4 linked regions of the Homo sapiens genome follow. The protein of the gene in region 1 interacts with the protein of each later gene in a biochemical or structural test. Each region holds a gene or a part of one and is shown on either strand. Other genes may lie near its edges.

Region 1 (3,500 bases):
GCTCCTTTTCTGCCCCAGGGACCATCTTGTTGGCCACTGGGGGCCACTGTTTCTACCCTCAGCCTGTGTTTTAAACTGGGTAGGGTCAGGGCAGCCTGGCCTGTTCCTCTTCTCCAGGATGCTCCAGAGCCACTTGCCCTATCGAGGGGTCACTCTGACAAGCTGCCGCCTCCCCAGCCCCCAGCCTCGTGGCTGAGGAACCCTGGGAAGAGGCATTCCAGGTCTGCGTGTGCGCAGCTCTGTGCCTGTGCTGGGTGTCATCCGTGGCTCTGTCTTTGTCTCTGTTGAAGGCGCCTGCATGCTGGGAAGGCCTGGGAGAGGGCCGGCCTTCTCCACAGGCAGCGCCGTGGTTGGGGAAGCCTAGGAGGCCACTCTGCCAGGCCTGGCGTAGGTGGGGCTGGGAGCATGGGAGTGGAGTTGGGGGTCCAGGAGGCTCCAGGGTGAGCCCACTCCTCCCCCTAGATACAAGGGAGGGCCCTGGGACCCTGTCTGCTGTTCCTCCTGGACTCCTGCTGGGTAGTACTTCCTCCTTCCCCTGCCCTTGCTCCCAGCCAGGAGACCCAGAAAAGTACAGGGGCGGCCTGCTCCACCTCCTGCTAGGTGGCCGACTGGGAGGGGCGGCCTGGCAGGCCTTGGGGACCAGGAGGAACAGCCTGAAGCTGTCTGTCTTATCTTCCTGGAGGCCCTGATGGCATTATCTCCATGTTCTCTCCTACCTTTTTTTTTTTTTTTTTTTCATTTTCAAAGAGAACCCTGGCCGGGTGCGGTGGCTCACGCCTGTAATCCCAACACTTCGGGAGGCTGAGATGGGTGGATCACCTGAGGTCAGGAATTTTGAGACCAGCTTGACTAATGTGGTGAAACCCCCGTCTCTACTAAAAATACAAAAATCAGTTGGGCATGGTGGGGCACGCCTATAGTCCCAGCTACTTGGGAGGCTGAGGCAGGAGAGTCGCTTGAACCCGGCAGGCGGAGGTTTCAGTGAGCCGAGATCCCGCCATAGCACTCCAGCCTAGGCGACAGAGTGAGACTGTCTCAAAAAAAAACAAAAAAAGGAAAAGAAAGAAATCCCTTCAGGGGATATGAGTCCAGGGGTTGGCCAGACCCCACTGTGAGAACCGCGCTTGGGGCAGGGGTGTGGGATCTGGAGTTCTGAGGGTGCAGGGGATATACACATTCACTTTCTCCCTTTCCCAGACGTCACTGCTGAAGCTGGCTGCCCCTAGGAGCTGAGCCCGGGGGGAGCGGCTTGGCAGGGAGACAGCATTCCCTGTGGGGAGCCCAGCCTGGGCGCAGGCCTGCCCGTGGGACCTGTGGGACCCGTTTTGTTCCTGGGGCTTGAGGGCGGGCCACAGTGGTGCTCAGGGCCAAGGTGCCCAGCCCAGGGCTGGTGGGGGGGCTGGCCTTGCAGGGGGGCTGGCTGGTCCTAAGCCCCTGTCTCCAGGCTGAGGGTTGGGGCCTCCCTCTTTCCCAGCCACCTTCCCTCCCCCAGGAGGAAGCTCCCCCTCTGCCTCAGGCGTTTGTCCATTGATTTGGACACAAACGCATGGTTCACCTTCCTGTGGAAAAATCCGGCCCTCGGACTTTATCTGGAGGGTGCAGTGGCCCAGGCACCTTGCCTTGGGTGGGACCTTCCCCCTCTGCTATTTCAGGCTCTGGGGGCTGCAGGAAGCCCTAGGAGGGGCTTCCTCTGGGTGTATTTTTAGAGGAACAAAGGGTGGCCTGAGTGGCAGGTCCCTTTGTGCATGAGTCTGGCTGGGGACAGGGGCTCCAGGAGGTCAGGGGGCACCCAAGGAACAGGGTCTCCCCTTCTCTCTTCTGGCATCAAGACCTGAGGTTTCTTTTTCTTTTTCTTTCTTGGCTCACTACAACCTCCGCTGTCTGGGTTCAAGCGATTCTCTTGCCTCACCCTCCCCAGTAGCTGGGATTACAGGCGCGCACCACCACACCTGACTAATTTTTGTGTTTTTAGTAGAGACGGGGTTTCACCATGTTGCTCAAGCTGGTCTCGAACTCCTGATCTCAGGTGATCTGCCCTCCTCGACCTCCCAAAGTTCTGGGATTACAGGTGTGAGCCACTGTACCCGGCCCCTGAGGTCTGAGGTTTCATTTCTTTCTTTCTTTTTTTTTTTTTTTGAGACGGAGTTTCACTCTGTCGCCCAGGCTGGAGTGCTGTGGTGCGATCTCGGCTCACTGCAAGCTCCGCCTCCTGGGTTCAAGCAATTCTTATGTCTCAGCCTGCTGAGTAGCTGGGATTACAGGCGTGTACCACCACACCTGGCTAATTTTTGTGTTTTTGGTAGAGACAGGGTTTCACCGTGTTGGCCAGGCTGGTCTCAAACTCTTGGGCTCAAGTGATCCGCCTGCCTCAGCCTCCCAAAGTGCTGGGATTACAGGTGTGAGCCCCTGCGCCTGGCTCAGGACCTGAGGTTTCTTCACCTGAGCTCCCAGCATGGGCAGGAAGAGGTGGGCCTCACCTGACCTCCACAGAGCAGGCTCAGATCCTGCCCTTCTCAGCCTGGGTTCAGGGCATGCCTCAGATGGTCAGGGAGCCCAGGAGGGCAAAGCTTACCTTGCGGGGATGGCTCCAGTGGGGGCACTGGTGGCAGAGAGGCAGAGCTCTGGAAGGGATGTGTGTAGTTTGTCTTTGGTGAAGGATGGAGAGGGCCCAACTTTGGGTGCCCCCTGGGAGCTAAGGGTGGCTCTCAGTGTCCTCTGTCCTGGCTGGGGATAGGGGAGGTGGGCAGGGGAGGACACTGATGTGGTTGGCCCCTCCTTTTGGGGGCCGTGAAGGCCTAGTTAGTGATGACTCAGCCCTGGGCCACACCAGGCTGGGGGTGGCCGCAGCTGCAGTGCAGCTGATCCTAGTAGTGACGACAGGGGACAGCCCCCAAACAGAGACGGGGTGGCCAGCGGTGCCAGGCCCTGGAGGTGGTGGCAGACCCTGAGCCCTCTGCCCCCTGCCCCTAGCCCATGTCTCCACCCCCATCTGGAGGGCCTTGGGGGCTAAGAGCAGGTGTGAGGGGTGACAGTTCTGCGGGAGGCGGCTGTGTGGTTGGGGCGCGGTGCCTGCGGGGGCTTCCGGGCTTCCCTGGCTCTTGCTCCTCTGGAGCCTCAACAGGACCGTCCTGTGTTCTGGGGCCGGGACTCCTCCCTGTCCCCTCAGCCCTGGGTCCTGGGGCAGGGCAGGGCCTTCCAGCAGCTTCCTTCCTTCCTTTCTTGGGACGGAAGCCTAGCTGGGTGGGGGGCGCCAGGCTGGAGCCTTCGCAGGGGAGCGGGCTCAGTCATCACCCTGCTCCCCAGAGTGACTCAGCCCCCACGTCCCCACCCATCCCCGGGGAGCCAGGGCCGCAGAGGGAGGTAGATAAGTGGGGTGGCAGCCTGGGTCGGCCAGAGAGTTCAGGCCACCCCGGCCGGACGCCTGCCACTTGCTGTCACTGTGCCGCTGTCATGGCACGCTCCGGGAGTGCCACGCCACCTGCCCGGGCTCCGGGAGCCCC
Region 2 (4,176 bases), on another chromosome or scaffold:
AAAATGAAGGCAGGGCCAGGAGTGGGACTAGAGGGGTGGGAGCAGTGGCTCTCCTGTCCCCAACAAGGGGAAGGAACATCCTGGGCAGATCAGTGTGTTTGTACCCTATCCCCCAAAATCAGACATCGAGGCTTTGCCCCAAACTAACTTCCTACCCACAAATATTCCCCATAGATTTTGAGTGGGAAAGATCTGAATTCTAGGACTAGCTCTGTGAGTGCTAGCAGGTGACCTTGAGTAAGCCATTCACTCTCCCTCTGCCTTGGTTCCCTGTGAGTAATTGGGGAGAACAGTTACTGTATGTCAAAGACTCTAATGACACATAGTAGGATTCCACAGTGACTGTGTATGCACAAGATTGATCATGCATGGCTTTTATTATATTCTTCATAATGGTTGTTTTTCATGTTCTTTTCTCCCCATTAGACTTTGTGCTCCTTGCAGGAAGGAAACTGTGTTTCATTTCTGTACTGGGCACACAATAGGTACCCAACACCTGTTTACTGAATGGAGACATCCAGAAATGAATGAATGAATAAATGTCAGGGTCCTTCCTGCTGTGCCAGGGGATACAGGGAAAAGCAGTGTGGGGTGGATGGCCTGAAAGGATAGGCTGCCTGCAGTGGCTCAGCCTGGCTTGCTTCCTACACCTACAAGTCAGAGCCTTAGAAATTGTCCAGTCAACTTCCTCACTGCACAGATGAAGAAATTAAGGCTCAGAGACAGGAAGGCACTTGCCCAAGGTCACATAACTCCTTAATGACAGATACAGAATTCAGAATTAGAACTCAGGTTTCCTGCCCTCCAGCCTAGGGTATTGCACACACTTCACTGCTTCTCTGGAGCTGTTCTTTTAGGGAAGAAAGATGGTTCAGTGAAGGCCGGTTCCAATGCCCTCCCCTCTGCCCTCTGTTAGTCCTTTCCCACATCTAGCTTCAATCTCTTCCCTTTCCCCCTATTCCATTCCTCTGGAAGTCTAGCTTCTGCCTTAACCCTTCACCACGAAACTGGGAGTAAGGATCTTCCCTAGGGTTCCAAGAATCAATTTCCTCTCCCCACTCCTCTGCCCTGGGAACTTGGGGGAACCAGAGATGTGTGTGTGTGTGGGGGGGTGCTGTTGGTTGAACCTCGGGCACCGAGTCCACGGAGAACAGATGGAGAGGGGTTGCGGCACAGATTCTCCCAGGATAGGAGCGCGGGAGGGAGGTGCAGTGAGCAGGGCTGGGAGCGGGGAAGAGGTGTGGGGAGTCCCTGTTGCTTTACCCCTTCGGGGGGTGGTTATTAGGTAGGCTTGGGAAGGCGGAGTTTGGGGGGCTGGGGGCGGGGCTCGGCTGCGCTGGCAGGAAAGGGGGGGCGCGCTGGCTCCAGCTCGGCTCAGACAAAAGGCGGCGGCGGGAGCGGGCGGGAGGCGGAGCGGCGCCGCGAGGGCCTCAAGGTGACACCCGCCCCCGGCCCCGGCCCCCCCCGGCCCGGCCCCCCAGCCTGCCTCCCACCCTCAGCCCCCAGCCCCTTACTCCCGGTGCCCTTTCCGGGCCCCCTCCCCCGGCGGGGGGTGGGGAGCAGCGAGGGCCCCGCCCCCTCCCGTCCTCTCCCCAGGGCCCGCGCAGGATGCCCCCGGCCCCTGGCAGCCCCCCGGGAGGTCCTGAGCTCGACGCGCCCCCTCTACGCCATGTCCCCCCCTGGCTCGGCCGCGGGAGAGAGCGCCGCCGGCGGCGGCGGCGGCGGTGGCGGCCCCGGGGTCTCGGAGGAGCTCACGGCGGCGGCGGCAGCGGCGGCGGCGGACGAGGGCCCCGCCCGAGAGGAGGTGAGAGTCTAGGGCGCCCCTTCCCCGGGCGCGGCCGCAGCCTGGCCCCCCATCCCCCATCGCACGCGTCCCCCGCTGGTTCCGCCGCAGCGCGGCCGGCGCCCCGCACCCCGAGCCGGCCGCTGCAGCCGCAGTCCGCGCCGCCGCCCCCACCCGGCGGCCGGAGCTGTCCGCGGTGCCGGGGAAGGGGCCGCGCCGGGGGCGGGGCTCAGGGGTCCCGGGCAGGGGGAGGGGCCTAGGGGCGGAGCCTCGCGGATCCTGGGCTTATGAGAGTGGGGGCTATGCTCTACCGGGGTGGGGACGGTGGCGGGGATCCTGTCTCACAGAGGAGGATGCTACCTTGAAGGCCAGGAAGGGCGGCTTGTACGGGCTACAGAACGAGGAGGGTACCATGGGGAAGTGGTGGTGGTACCTGATCTGGGACCCTAAGGAGGTCAGATGTGTACGGGGGGTCCCGCCTGTGGTCATTGGGAGTGTGTGTGTGTGTGTGTGGGGGGGGGTGTGCACCTCTCTCTCACGAGGCTCCTGCTGCTTCCTCATATCCCTAGTTGGGGTCCCTAGTACTCAGTCCTCTGAACCTGAAGACAAAGAGACGGAGGAAAGTACCAGGAGCACCCCCACTCCAGCCTCCCATGCACACTTGTGCACACGCATGCACCCTGTACTAGGGCAGAGGCACACAAGCGGGGATGGGCCTGCAGGTAAAGCCCCTTTCAGAGGTACCCACATGGGGACAAGCACATAACCAGGTAGGCACACGAAGGGGCCCGTATGTTCATACCTCCTAAGGACAAGGCTCCCCGAAAGGCACATGTACCCTAATCTCCTTGTCCACATGTACTGTGTGCTATTTCCTAGCTCGCCTAACTATCCATACTTCTAGATCCAGGGACCGATGCCTATTACTGTACCCTTCTTTTCCACTCTTTTCCTCTCTTTCCTGGCTGGCCTCTAGGTCAGGCCTGAGGAATTGAGGGGGTAAGTCAGGATCCCAGCAGGAGGTTGTGTGTGTGTGTGTGTGTGTGTGTGTGGTGGGGGATGGGTTCCTAAAGCTAGACAGCACAGAGGAGGGGTGGGAAAACAGAGGCCACTACAAGAAATTAAACTCAACACTCAATTAGGATGTGGCTGCTGGGGGCCAGCACCATGGTAGGCACCTAGGATGCAAAGAGAATGAAGCATGGGCCCTCAGGAGTACCCAGTGTAGTGGGGAGCCAGACATGTAAACAACTCCTGGGCCAACCCTGGGACAGAATGTGCCAGGAGCTTTAACAGACAGGCTCCAGGAGAGTACCAAAAATAATTTTCTCTTGATAAATTGCTGGGCTTCAAACGTTGTCCTCGCTACCCCAGTCCCACATCCCCTATGCCTGTCCTCTCCTCAGCCACATGCCTCTGCCCTTCTGGATACCTCCTCCTGGACTGCCTGCCGCTCAGGGACCCCAGCCCCCTCCCTCCCATCCTAGGACAAAGGGAAGGATGTCAGGGTGCAGGAGGGAGACTCACAGGGGAACCAGGGTCCAGAACATGGGGAATGAGACTGGGCCTGGGGTTCTCTGGAGGCCCTTATCCAAAGGACGTGTTAGGCTAATTGTGAGGGTTAGGGAGGTGGATGGGTCAGAGGGGAGTAGCTCCTCTAGAACCTAGGACTGAAAAAAATCTGGAAGTGAGGGCCCCACTTGTTAAGTGGGGAAGTGATGTCAGTGGGTCCCTCCCCCTTTTCTAGAGGACCTGGAAGGGGTCTGGGCTGGGGACCTTCCTTCGCTGATGCCTGTCTGTCTGTCCTCCCCTGTCTTCCCTGTCCACATCTTCTGTTTCATTGCCATTTTTGTGTTTGTCTTCGGATGCTCTCTGGGTACCATCCTATCCATCTGTGTTTGCTGCCTGGGCCTCTATCTCTGGCTCTGATCCTTCTCTGCCTCTTGGGGTGTCTCTCTCTGCACTCTCCTGTACTGGCATTCCGGTCCCCTTTCCTGTCCTCTGGCTTGCTCTGTGTCACTTCTGTTTCTACCTCTGGCCCCTGGCTCCCATCTTGGTCTCACCTTTTCTCTCCATATCCCTGTTTCTCTCTGCCTGTTATCTCTGGTGCTGGCCTCTGCCCCTCCATCCCCGTATCCATCTCTGTGCTGGGTCCTGCCTGCTCTCACTTCCCACTCATCTTGGCCCCTCTCCCTGCCCACCTGAGCAGCAGCGTCCCATCCAGCCCTCTTTCACCAAGTCCCTCTGCCGTGAGTCCCACTGGAAGTGCCTCCTGCTCTCGCTGCTCATGTACGGCTGCCTGGGGGCAGTGGCCTGGTGCCACGTCACCACAGTGACGCGCCTCACCTTCAGCAGCGCCTACCAGGGCAACAGCCTCATGTACCATGACAGCC
Region 3 (3,500 bases), on another chromosome or scaffold:
AAAATTAGCTGGTTTTGGTGGTGGGCGCCTGTAATCCGAGCTACTTGGGAGGCTGAGGCAGGAGAATTGCTTGAACCTGGGAGGCGGAGGTTGCAGTGAGCGGAGATTGCACCACTGCACTCCAGCCTGGGCGACACTCACACTGGGTGACAGTGTGAGACTCCGTCTCAAAAATAAATAAATAAATAAATAAATAATAATCTTGGCCAGGCACAGTGGCTCACTCTTGTAATTCTAGCACTTTGGAAAGCCAAGGTGGGAGAGTCCCTTGAGCCCGAGTTCAAGACCAGCATGGGCAACATGGCAAGACCCCATCTCTAAATAAAATAATAAAATTATTTTTAAAATTTTTAGAAAAAATGTATTTGATGTATTTCAAAGACTGTTTCCCAACCCCTCTCTTTTAGTGCCCGAAGTGACGAAACCAAGTTTAAGCCAACCAACGGCCGCCAGCCCAATTGGCAGCTCTCCATCGCCACCAGTCAATGGTGGCAACAATGCCAAAAGGGTGGCAGTGCCGAACGGACAACCGCCAAGCGCCGCCCGCTACATGCCTCGGGAGGTGCCGCCGCGATTCCGTTGCCAGCAGGACCACAAAGTGTTACTAAAACGTGGGCAGCCCCCTCCACCGTCCTGCATGCTCCTTGGGGGTGGGGCAGGGCCTCCTCCCTGCACAGCACCTGGAGCAAACCCAAACAACGCACAAGTGACAGGAGCGCTGCTGCAGAGTGAGAGTGGGACTGCGCCAGGTAAGGCACCCTGTGAATCGAATGCATGGCAGCTTGACAGAGAGAGAGCACTTTGTTTGCATTGCTTGATGTAAAGTCCAGGAAAGCCATTCATTATATAAACCACTGGGATTAGTCAAAAGATGAGAGAGGATCCTAGTATGCGATGTGTATTGGTGATTCTTGGAACTGAGGTTTAGTGTTCCGTAAGTGTGTGCTCTTGGCATAAGGGCTAACTTAACTGCTGTTGCTTATTATTTTGGGGGCCTTTTTTCCTTCTCAGACTAGAGTGTTACAAATTTGAGCCTCCATAGTTCCACCGTCATATGTGTTCAGGGCATAATTGGACATGGGGCTTGTGCGAAGGCGAATCTTTAGATGCCTGTGTTATGTTTCCAGAATGCTAGGAGGATAGAGAAAATGATTTGCTACATTGCAATATAGAATCTTCGGAGGATTCTAAAATAATACTATAGTTTTTAAATTAGATTTTTAAACTCAGTATTTCTTTTTGTGGGCCCTGGATTTTGAGCTTTGTTAAAAACTGTATGTAGAAATAAGGGATATTTAGCTGAAAGGTTCTACTAGAAGTTTTGAGAGTTTTTGGCCGGGCACGGTGGCTCACGCCTGTAATCCCAGCACTTTGGGAGGCCGAGGCGGGTGGATCACCAGGTCAGGAGATCGAGACCACCCTGGCTAACATGGTGAAACCCTGTCTCTACTAAAAATATAAAAAAATTAGCCAGGCATGGTGGCGGGCTCCTGTAGTCCCAGCTACTCGGGAGGCTGAGGCAGGAGAATGGCGTCAACCCAGGAGGCGGAGCTTGCAGTGAGCCGAGGTCGCGCCATTGCACTCCAGCCTGGGTGACAGAGCCAGACTCCGTCTTAAAAAAAAAAAAAAAAAAGTTGTGAGAGTTTTTAATAGATGAATACTAAGTCAACTAACAGCTAAGAAATTCTAAATATCTTTTAAAGTTTATTAACAGATTTCAACTTAAAATGTCTTTTGGGGTGATATTAAAATTCAGAGCTTGAATACCATTAGGCATTGGCAAAGATAATGAATTGATGGTTGTCACCAGTAGGATGCTTTATTTGAGTTCTGAGTTTAAACAAATAATTGCCTAGAAAATTTGGTCACCATCTTGCTGTGTGCAGAGTAAGGATGGAAAGAAACCTCGTGGTGACACAGACTTCCTGCAGAGATAAGCCCTACCCATGGCCTTTCCTTCCTGGCTCTCCAAACCAGCTGCAAAAGGAAGCATGTGAAGGGGCAGGCCCTGTCAGGCGGAGTTTCTGCAGCCGAGTGTAGCCAGGCCTAGGTGGAGACTGGGGTCCAGTGTGAGTCAGAGTCCACATTATTAAAACGGAGGAGGCCCCTAAATCTCGAGTTTCGGTTTCTATGCTTTTTATTTTTCTATGCCTCCGTATAATACTTTTTGAAACTTCAAATTGATTAAAAGCTGCCTGGTTAAAGAAGCCAAAATAAATTTAGAAGAAATGATCTCATTAAAAACATGTTTTTCCCACCAAATATGGTAAATTCCACCAAAATATATGGTGAGCCAGACTCATTTAACAGATTAAGTTCCTTGGGGTTGTGAACTCTGCCTAATTCATACTCATGTGACACCCCTGCCACCCTGGGCACCTAGCTCAGTGGCTCAGTGGGTATTCATCATTCAGCAGATGCTTACTCCGCAGCATTGTGCTGGCTGCTGTGTGGAATTCTAACGTTAGCAAGTTAGGGTCTCTGCCTAAAAGACGCTAACATGGGGAAGGAAAGTTGTGAACATGGTGCCACAGCACTGAGCAAAATGGCTCTAGACAGGGAAAGATTATTTTCAGGTGATGAGCTTGAAAACAGCTTCGCAGATGAAATGACACTTGAATTGGGCCCAGAAGGATGAGTAAATTTCACTGTGTGAATTCAGCAGGAAAACACAGTAGGTGCCAACGTGAAATGGTGCCAGAGTGAGAAGGCACAAGTTGTGGAATGTCAAGTAGTATCGAATATTGACATCTACATAGGAGGTAGTAGAAGATAAGACTAGAAAAGTTGGTTGGTCCCAGGTCATGGAACATCTTGATGACATTCGAGGCCAAGGAGTTCAGCTTTATTCTTGTGCACTAAGGAACTGTTGAAGGTTCTCCATACAGCAGTGATATAATCAAAAGTGTGCTTTAGAAAGATTGCTCCAGCCAGGGGTGTTTAGAGTAGGTTGAAGATACAGAGCAAGTTTAGAGTGCCATTGCTATTGCCTTGTCCCAAGATACAAGAAGGCCCTTCTCTGTCAATAGGAATGGCAAAGGACGTAGCTTTGAGAGAGATGAAGTTAGACTTAACCGGTGTAACACAAGGCAAATGAAAAAAAAGAGATGACTAAGACAGTTGTGATACAAGCAACTGGGTTGAGAGAAACTGGCATGTGATCAGCTCTCCTAAGGGCAGAGCTCAAAGGAGAGCCCCTTTGAGGGATTAATGGGTAATGAATGCATTTGAAGCTGTGATTAATAAGATGATCTGTTCCCCAGACTCAACCCTTGGAGGTGCTGCTGCTTCAAATTATGCAAATTCCACTTGGGGCTCGGGAGCCTCCTCCAACAACGGCACCTCCCCCAACCCAATTCACATCTGGGACAAGGTGATTGTAGACGGGTCTGACATGGAAGAGTGGCCTTGTATTGCCAGCAAAGACACTGAATCTTCTTCCGAAAACACCACCGATAACAACAGTGCCTCGAACCCTGGCTCTGAGAAGAGCACTCTGC
Region 4 (3,500 bases), on another chromosome or scaffold:
ACTCGGGAGGCTGAGGCAGGAGAATGGCGTGAACCTGGGAGGCGGAGTTTGCAGTGACCCAAGATCACACCACTGCACTCCAGCCTGGGCAACAGAGCAAGACTCTGTCTCAAAAAAACACTTTTTTTTTCATTTTATTCAGGTGGCAGGTTTTACAACATACTAGCTCTTAGGATCTCTCAGCATTAATAGGATTCAAATTTTAAATAATATGGTTCCTAGATATAATGCAAAATTAACTCAAATGCCTTTACCATATACGATTTTATCTTCCCTAGGATGCACATCCTACTGACCTTTTCCCAAGTATAGTGGAAACACATTTACCACCCCTAGATTGTAGAGCCTGAGGATTCTTTTGAAATTAAACAATAATCATTGCAGATGTGGCAAAAACTAGACTAGCTTTAGGGACTCTGTTCAAGATAATAGCTTTAATCCCTGGTTGGCAAGTTCTCAAAATTTTTAAAGGTAGAAGGAATAACTGGTTTCCTATCTACTGACTTCATTGCCATAGTTACAAACATACTGTTCAAATAGGTAACAGAATGCATTGTAGAAGTAGGCAGGCTTAATATCTTTTCTTTTTAAAAAGGAGTTTTGTTGATTTCTAACACCATTAAGTGTAAGTCTGAATGTGAGAAAAGATATCCCAAAATCGAATCCAGTTACCCTCAAAGCATCTCAGAACTAGAAGGGATTTCAAAGGAGGGTAACAATCAGCTTTACCACTAGGCAGAAACCCATGGGCAGCCTTTAAATAACAAAAAGAGCTTATTAAAACAGATACTTAAATCTCTGCAGTAATGGAATAGTTCATATAGTTCAACAGTAATGGAACAAAAGCTGAATCATCTAAAATTGTTAAACCCACTCATAACTTCTATTTAGCATTGGAATGCACTTCGATCTGACCTATGGAGATGATGGGTTTATTATTGTAGAAATTCCTGTGAACATGACTTAAAACGAACTACAGGTCTGTCCAGCATCCCTAAGTCTGCCAGTGCCTTAACTCTAGCCTACACTATGACCCAGGGTGCTGATAAAGGGCAGCACTTGCTACCATGCAAAGCACCAGCTTAGTAAAGCTGCCTCCTAATGATGAACACCTTCCTTGTAGAGTAACAGATTTCATCTGAACTAAGTGAGGTGACAATTTGTAGTATAAACAAAAGACTTAATGGAACAGAAAGCTCCAGTCTCCAAAAGGTCTTAAAAACAGGACTTGCCATGACTACTTAAATGCTGGCAACAGAATAAATTCCAACTTTAACAAAACAAAAGAACTGATACACTATTGTGAAAGCATTCCTTTTGGTAAGCACAAAATAAACTTTTTATCAAAAGTATTTCATAAATTTCTACTTTTTTACTGTATGTTTTGGTAACATAAAGCATCAGTAAATAAACATTACACCCATTTGGCACATGGATAGAAGGAATATCATGATCCTATATATCATTATCCTATTCCTACAGAAAACAATGTACATATACAGTGTGAAACAGCTGAGTTATATTTTGAGACCTAAAACAGATGCCATTTCTAATGCAGAACTAAGAAGAAAAAACTGTATATCAAAGAAAAAAAAAGGCTTTTTCCCTTGTAAAATTATTAAAGTCTTAGTGGCTAACCTCTTGAAAAATTTGTAAATGTGTGACTATGTAAAGTATTTTACCCACTATATTAACTTTGTATATATATACTTTTTCATGTGAAACACATGAAAACATAATTTCTATTAGCAGTGTTAAAAGTGATTACAGAAAAAAAATTAAGGTTTAACATAAACAATAGGCAGTAGAGAAATGTTATTTTAACCTTGGCACCAGGTTAAATCCTTCCTTGGTCAACTTCTCCTATACTCTACTAGGCATTCAATTCATTTTCAATCTTTCACAAAATTGGACCTTTTACTCATTTGAAGAGTAGACATATTTACAATAATTAGTGCAAATTATTCTATTATCATACATTAGTTATTTGCCTTTGTGGATATAAAGTGGTGATTCAGTACTTTATCAAAACATGGCATTATGAAAATACTGGGAATATATCAGTCTGAAATTTAAAAGATTACATTTTCTAAACTAAACTCTGGGAATTTTTACTTTAAGCATGAAACATAATTGTTATAGAACTTCTTTTGAAATGTCACTTGACTTTCAATAAAAACTATTTCACACAATGCAGAAAATACAATGTATCATTCCATAGCAGTATCTTTACTTGTCAATCCTAATCTAAAATGTATTGAACAAAAATCTTTTAATAAATTCCAATATCTTATTTTTAACCACTACTGCTCTGCAGCAGTAATTGAAGTCCCAACCTGAGAACTAAGAATGTGATAATAAAATGCCAAGGGCTCTATCAATCTTGAACTGAAGACACTTAAGCTTCTTTCCTACTGGCATCAAGTGCAGTACATTAGAGAAATGTGAGCAATCCCAGAAAGTACCCTGAGATCAACAGTACCACCTGCCACAATTTGAAACCTTAACTGTAAAATCTCTGTTCTAATTATTTTATAAAAGTTCTATTGCACATTTAATATTGTTAAAATATTTGCAAACTTGTAGAATTCTCTGTATAAAGGGCTTTAAACTTATTCAGCTAAATGCTTCCTCATCACCAGCAAAATGTTCCTAATGAAAGAAAAGCATATCCATGAATGTCTAAGCCTGAAGAATAAATGATTTCTTATGGACACAGCCAATTACAATGCAAGAATTAAAAGTTCACAATTTGACGGAAAAAATTCTTGAGCAAATGTAATTCCTCAGCAGTCTGCTTCAGGGAGATGAGCAGGTTTCCTTTAGATGTTAATACATAGTACATTATGTTTAAGGGGGAAAAAAGATCAATGCAAACCTAAGTCATCAAGTTCAATCTTTTTTTTAAAATGTAGCTACAACAAATAAGCAAATATAAAGCTTAATCTCCTCCTTGATATTTCAACATAGTTGTTACCTTCTGCCATTTCACCATAGAAACTGTCAAATTCCAAGGGGGAATATCTACCAAAAGTATAAGCTTATGCTTCTGATTCTCTCTTCTTTCCTCCTTCTCCCAAATCACTCTCTTCTGACTGGCTACTGCTAAGGACAACAAACTGCCCCTCACTACTGGCTTGGTTTGGTCTACTGGAAGCAGCTATCAACCGACTTTGTTCTTCCAAGTCCTAGTGGAAAAGACAAAAAAGAAACTAAGTTACTTGTCTGCAGTCAAATGGCAAATTATGCAGTTAAGATACATTCTTGAGAGCCACTTCTTCTGTCATAAATATGTATGCATACTTCTGACAACTTGATAAAAAGAAAAGCTACACCCAAACAATACAACACCAAAATGAATTTTGGCACCATCCTATAAAAGCCAGCATTCAAACTAAAATCTAATATTTTATCTTTCTTTTTTTATGACCAACAACCAAATAAAGCCCATCATCAATCATCTCTCACTATATATTATAGTAAAACCCTCGAAAGGGATC

The links.
Region 2: the proteins of NHERF2 (region 1) and TMEM151B interact in a test that uses a peptide from one of them, tested with the Homo sapiens proteins (one large-scale study listed by IntAct).
Region 3: the proteins of NHERF2 (region 1) and TNRC6B interact in a test that uses a peptide from one of them, tested with the Homo sapiens proteins (one large-scale study listed by IntAct).
Region 4: the proteins of NHERF2 (region 1) and APPL1 interact in a test that uses a peptide from one of them, tested with the Homo sapiens proteins (one large-scale study listed by IntAct).

The regions. Positions count from the first base shown.
Region 1 is NC_000016.10:2,029,902-2,033,401, forward strand, and holds part of NHERF2 (Na(+)/H(+) exchange regulatory cofactor NHE-RF2), read left to right. Parts: intron 1-3,392; exon of another isoform or gene 3,393-3,450; coding exon of another isoform or gene 3,451-3,500.
Region 2 is NC_000006.12:44,269,074-44,273,249, forward strand, and holds the start of TMEM151B (transmembrane protein 151B), read left to right. Parts: upstream 1-1,376; 5' UTR 1,377-1,669; coding exon 1,670-1,804; intron 1,805-3,992; coding exon 3,993-4,176.
Region 3 is NC_000022.11:40,261,425-40,264,924, forward strand, and holds part of TNRC6B (trinucleotide repeat-containing gene 6B protein), read left to right. Parts: intron 1-407; coding exon 408-749; intron 750-3,263; coding exon 3,264-3,500.
Region 4 is NC_000003.12:57,269,229-57,272,728, reverse strand, and holds part of APPL1 (DCC-interacting protein 13-alpha), read right to left. Parts: exon of another isoform or gene 3,189-3,500; coding exon 3,042-3,188; 3' UTR 1-3,041. UniProt on the Homo sapiens protein: Multifunctional adapter protein that binds to various membrane receptors, nuclear factors and signaling proteins to regulate many processes, such as cell proliferation, immune response, endosomal trafficking and cell metabolism.